2 separate regions of the Homo sapiens genome follow, and region 2 is linked to region 1. A link means that fine-mapping ties the variant in region 1 to the expression of a gene that starts in the linked region. Tissue or cell type: regulatory T cells. Region 1 holds a variant in brackets; the other region holds the start of a gene. All regions are shown on one strand. Distances are between the middles of the regions.

Region 1 (2,681 bases):
AACTAACTGCAAAGCAAGAAGATTATAAGAAATAACTGAAATCAGAGGCATACTGAAGGACATTGAGACACAAAAAACCATTCAAAAGATCAACAAATCCAGGAGGTGGTTCTTGAGAAAAATGATGAACTAAGTAGACTACTAGTTAGACTAATAAAGAAGAAAAAGATCCAAATAAACACAATTAGAAAAAACAAAGGGGATATTACCACTGACTCCACAGAAATACAAATAAACATCAGAGAATATTACAAACATCTCTATGTACATAAGCTAGAAAATATAGAAAAAACAAATGCATTCTTGGACACATACACCCTCCAAACCCTGAGCCAGGAAGAATTTGCATTTGTGAAAGGACCAATAATGAGCTCCAAAATTGAATCAGTAATAAATAGCCTACCAGCCGAAATAAGCCCAGGACAAAACAAATTCATAGCTGAATTCTACCAGATGTGCAAACAAGAGCTTATATCATTTCTGCTGGAACTATTCCAAAATATTGAGGAGGAACTCCTCCCTAACTCATTCTGTGAGGCCAGCATCATCCTGATAACAAAACCTGACACAGACCCAACAAAAAAAGAAAACTTCAGGCCAATATCCTTGATGAATGTCAATGCAAAAATCCTCAAAAAAATACTGGCAAACTGAATCCAGCAACACATCAAAAAGCTTATCTACCACAATCAAGTTGGCTTTACCCTTGGGATGCAAGGTTGGTTCAACATAGGCAAACCAAAAACTGTGATTCATTACGTAAACAGAACTAAAGACAAAAAATCACAAGATTATCTCAATAGATGGAGAAAAGGCTATCCATAAAATTCAACACCCTTTCATGTTAAAAACTCTCAAACTAGGTATTAAAGAAACAGACCACAAAATAATAACAGCCATCTATGACAGACCCACAGCCAACATCATACAGAATGAGAGACAAGAGACTGAGAAAAGAAATAAGACACAGAGACAAAGTATAGGGAAACAACAGTGAGCCCAGGAGACCGGCACTCAGCACACCAAGGACCTGCACCAGCACCAGTCTCTGAGTTCCCTCAGTTTTTATTTATTATTATTTTCATTATTTCAGCAAAAAGGAATGTAGTAGGAGAGCAGGGCGATAATAAGGAGAAGGTCAGCAAAAAACATGTGAGCAAAAGAATCTATGTCATAATTAAGTTCAAGGGAATGTACTATGCCTGGATGTGCATGTAGGCCAGATTTATGTTTCTCTCCACCCAAACATCTCAGTGGAGTAAAGAATAACAAGGCAGCATTGCTGCAAACATGTCTCATCTCCCACCATGGGGTGGTTTTTCTCTGATCTCAGAATTGAACAAATGTAAAATCGGGTTTTATACCGAGACATTCAGTTCCCAGGGGCAGGCAGGAGACAG[C/T]GGCCTTCCTCTATCTCAACTGCAAGAGGCTTTCCTCTTTTACTAATCCGCCTCAGCACAGACCCTTTATGGGTGTCAGGCTGGGGGACGGTCAGATGCTTCTCATCCCACTAGGCCATATTTCAGACTATCACATGGGGAGAAACCTTGGACAATACCCCGTTTTCAAGGGCAGAGGTCCCTGCAGCTTTCTGCAGTGCATTGTGCCCCTGGTTTACTGAGACTAGAGAATGGCAATGACTTTTACCAGGTATACTGCTTGTAAACATTTTGTTAACAAGGCACATCCTGCACAGCCCAAGATCCCTTAAACCTTGATTTCATACAACACATGTTTTTGTGAGCTCCAGGCTGGGGCAAAGTGGCTGGGGCAAAGTGGCTGGGGCAAAGCTACAAATTAACAACATCTCAGCAAAGCAATTGTTCAAAGTACAGGTCTTTTTCAAAATGGAATCCTTATGTCTTCCCTTTCTATATAGACACAGTAACAGTCTGATCTCTCTTTCTTTTCCCTACGCACAAGAGAAGAATGCCCTCTCTCACCACTCCTATTCAACATAGTATGGGAAGTCCTGGCCAGAGCAATCATGGAAGGTGAGGAAAGAAAGGGCATCGAAATAGGAAGAGGATAAGTCAAACTATTTCTGTTTATACACGACATGATACTATATCTAGAAAACCCTATGTTCAAAGACCAAAAGGGTTTTTCAGCTGATAAAAAACTTCAGCAAAACTTCAGGATTCAAAATCAATGTACAAAAATTACTAGTACTCCCGTACACCAACAACCAAGACAAGAGTCAAATTAGGAACACAATCCCATTCACAATTGCTACAAAAATAATAAAGTACCTAGGAATATAGCTAACCAGGGAGGTGAAAGATCTCTACAAGGAGAATTCTAAAACACTGCTCAAATAAATCAGTGGTAACACAAACAAATGGAAAAGCATTCCATACTCATGAATGGGAAGAATCAATATCCTTAAAAGGGCCATATTGGCTGTGCACAATGGCTCACACCTGTAATCCCAGTACTTTGGGAGACCGAGGCAGGCAGATCACGACGTCAGGAGATTGAGACCATCCTGGCTAACACAGTGAAACCCTATCTCTACTAAAAATACAAAAAATTAGCTGGGCCTGGTGGTGGACACCTATAGTCCCAGCTACTCAGGAGGCTGAGGCAGGAGAATGGCGTGAACCCAGGAGGCAGAGCTTGCAGTGAGCCAAGATTGGGCCACTGTACTCCAGCATGGGCAACAGAGTGAGACTCCATCT
Region 2 (2,681 bases), 870 kb after region 1:
ACCCTCCAAGGCACCCTACACACTAACCCACAAAGCAGCCAACTCCCTAGAAAGCTCAGCAAACCATAGAGTTCCACACAACTTATGGTCGGACGGTTACCCAGTTGTCGGATTCAAAACCCTACCTCTCCTCCAAGGAGGCCAGGACAAAACACCAAGCAATGGACCTCACCTTCATTCACGTCAGGAAACCACAAGAAGTATTTGAAAAAGGAAGCAAAAGGACGGGACGCAGGAGGGGACTTCCTGCCCCACTATACACAGCACCGCTCGTTCAAACCACTCAAGGGGCCCTTTCCCGGGGGCACCAAAGCGCAGAAGGCAGAGGGACCAGTTTGGAGGAGATCACAAACTCAGAGGAGCCAGGTTACAGACAAGCAGCCCTCCTCCCAGGCCATACCCCAATACCAGGCATGCTTCAGTAGCGTCCTCGAGGGGACTCCGTCAGGGATGCACAAGGACCACTCACCTCCTACCTCCGCCGGACTTCATCTCCCCTCTCCGCCCACTCCCACCTCACGTACTCGGCCCCCAGTCGCCTCTACACCCCGAACCTCTCCGGTGTTTCGGTCTCCCCCGGCAAAATCCTTCTTCCTGCCCCTCGGCCCTCAACCTGCGCCTCCCAAACGGCGGCGCCCGCGTCCCCTGCTCTGTTCCGCCTCCTTCGCTGCGGCGCCCGCCCCCGCCCCGCCTCTCCGGTCTCCGCTCCGTAACTGCTCAGCTCTGCTCCGGCTCCCCGGCGCGGCCCCTCACCCGGGTGGAGCCGATGTCCATCATCACCTCCTCGAAGGCCGCCGTCTCCTCGGCCTGACGCTGCTTCTGCAGCGCAATCTTCTCACTAAATTTGCGCGGATTGGAAGCCGAGGCCGTGGCCGAACCAGGCCCGTTCGCCCCCGACGTCGCCATCTTCCTTCCCCGTCCCTCCCTGCCACCCTCCCAGTACCAGCCGCGGCCTCCGCCGCGGCCTCGGCCCGGCTCCTCCAGCCGTAGCCACCGCCGCCTCAGCGAGCACCGCGAACCCGGCCCCAGCCTAGCCCTGACCTGTTGCGCGCGGGGGCCGCCGGGAATTGTAGTTTGTTTACGAGACTCCTTCACATCCCCAGTCACGCAGCACTAGGAGGAAACGGACTCCACTTCCCAGCAGCCCTGCTGACTCCGGAAACTGGGGACTTGGCTCCACCCTCTCGGCTACTCCCTGAGAGGTGCAAGCTGGGAAGAGTAGTTCTAAATTAGCCCTGAGACTACGAACGGAAAGGAGAGAGGGATTGAAGAGAGAAGAAAGGAAGAGGGAGGGGAGGGAAGAGAAGGGAAGCCGAGGGGTGGAGACCGGGAAAGAAGTACCAAGACACAAAGGAGGAAAAATTAGGTCATCTTCAGGGAAGGGGACTATCGGGTCCTGAGTGAAAACAGTGAGACCAAGAATCTTAAAACAGCTGTAAACATCTGGGACTCAGGCCCTCTCAGGCTGGCCACATGCCCACCCCTTTCCCAAAACAAACGAATCAGATACTGTACAGATGTCTAGAAACATCTTTTATTTGGGTAACAGGTCCCAAAACAGGTCAGTTAATAAAATAGATTCTAAAGAATATGTCCCTATGCACAGCCCTCCCTCCCCAAAAATAACGCTGGGGGTAGGCATTGCCCTTCCCCCTTGGGCTCCTCGGGTGTATTTAAAAAAATGTTTTGGCAGCTCAGTGTTTATCATCTGGGCATGGGACACCATGTCCATGTCCCCATATTCCTAGGGTACAGCAGCAGTAGATGGCTGCAACAACCTTCCTCCTACCCCAGCCCAGAAAATATTTCTGCCCCACCCCAGGATCCGGGACCAAAATAAAGAGCAAGCAGGCCCCCTTCACTGAGGTGCTGGGTAGGGCTCAGTGCCACATTACTGTGCTTTGAGAAAGAGGAAGGGGATTTGTTTGGCACTTTAAAAATAGAGGAGTAAGCAGGACTGGAGAGGCCAGAGAAGATACCAAAATTGGCAGGGAGAGACCATTTGGCGCCAGTCCCCTAGGAGATGGGAGGAGGGAGATAGGTATGAGGGTAGGCGCTAAGAAGAGTAGGAGGGGTCCACTCCAAGTGGCAGGGTGCTGAAATGGGCTAGGACCAACAGGACACTGACTCTAGGTTTATGACCTGTCCATACCCGTTCCACAGCAGCTGGGTACCCACCTCCAGCCTCCCATGTGAGCCTGTCCTTATGTATAGTGTCCAACCTCTGATTCTAGCAGTCAAGTGTCTTCCCCAATCCTAATGTCCCCTGATATGTCTCTAGCGACTTGACCATCTCTTGTTCCTTGGGACTGGGGCCAGCCTCTTGTCTGCCCACTTCCCTCTCATTAGTCAGATAGCCCCAAAGGCTCTATCTTTAGCTCCCAGAGAACTTTTTGGTCCTCAGTATTTCCCTTCCCCTTTCCTTCCTATTCCCCACAACTGGGGGAGGGAAGGGAGAACAGGGGCACCTGATCATCAATCTCCCCTGCCCCTCTCTTGAAGCCCCCTAGATTTGGATGAAGAGCAGGCCAGTGAGCAGGGCAAAGCCTGCTAGGAGCAGAATGACCTTGAGGATCCTTTGCTCAGAACTGGCCAGCTCCTGGGGCAGGATTTCCAGAAAGGTGATATAGAGAAAGGTGCCAGCTGCCATGCCCTCTAGCACAGACTGGGCCAGCTGGTGC

Alleles and levels. Alleles are on the strand shown, and positions count from the first base shown. SD is a standard deviation of normalised expression in the study named.
For the expression in regulatory T cells of the gene that starts at base 1,021 in region 2, allele C in region 1 goes with a higher level than allele T (small effect, 0.27 SD a copy in Bossini-Castillo 2019).

Evidence for each region. PIP is the estimated chance that this variant, and not a neighbour inherited with it, causes the effect. A credible set is the group of variants that fine-mapping cannot tell apart.
Region 2: CRTC2 starts here. The variant in region 1 is the best candidate, but not a certain one, in a credible set for the expression of CRTC2 in regulatory T cells (Bossini-Castillo 2019, PIP 0.65).

Annotation. Positions count from the first base shown.
Region 1 is chr1:153,087,359-153,090,039 of GRCh38, forward strand. It overlaps a transcript of SPRR2B not described here. Among named protein-coding and RNA genes, the nearest start is that of SPRR2E, 5.8 kb to the right of the region's middle. The variant C/T (reference allele first, on the strand shown) is at 1,401.
Region 2 is chr1:153,957,592-153,960,272 of GRCh38, forward strand. It overlaps CRTC2 (CREB regulated transcription coactivator 2), which reads right to left and starts at 1,021. Exons shown (of 14, transcript NM_181715.3): 1 at 754-1,021. The coding sequence starts at 906. It overlaps SLC39A1 (solute carrier family 39 member 1), which reads right to left. Exons shown (of 4, transcript NM_001271958.2): 4 at 1,519-2,681. The coding sequence ends at 2,507. RefSeq lists enhancers at 101-150, 211-430, 441-490, 1,051-1,250 and a silencer at 651-800.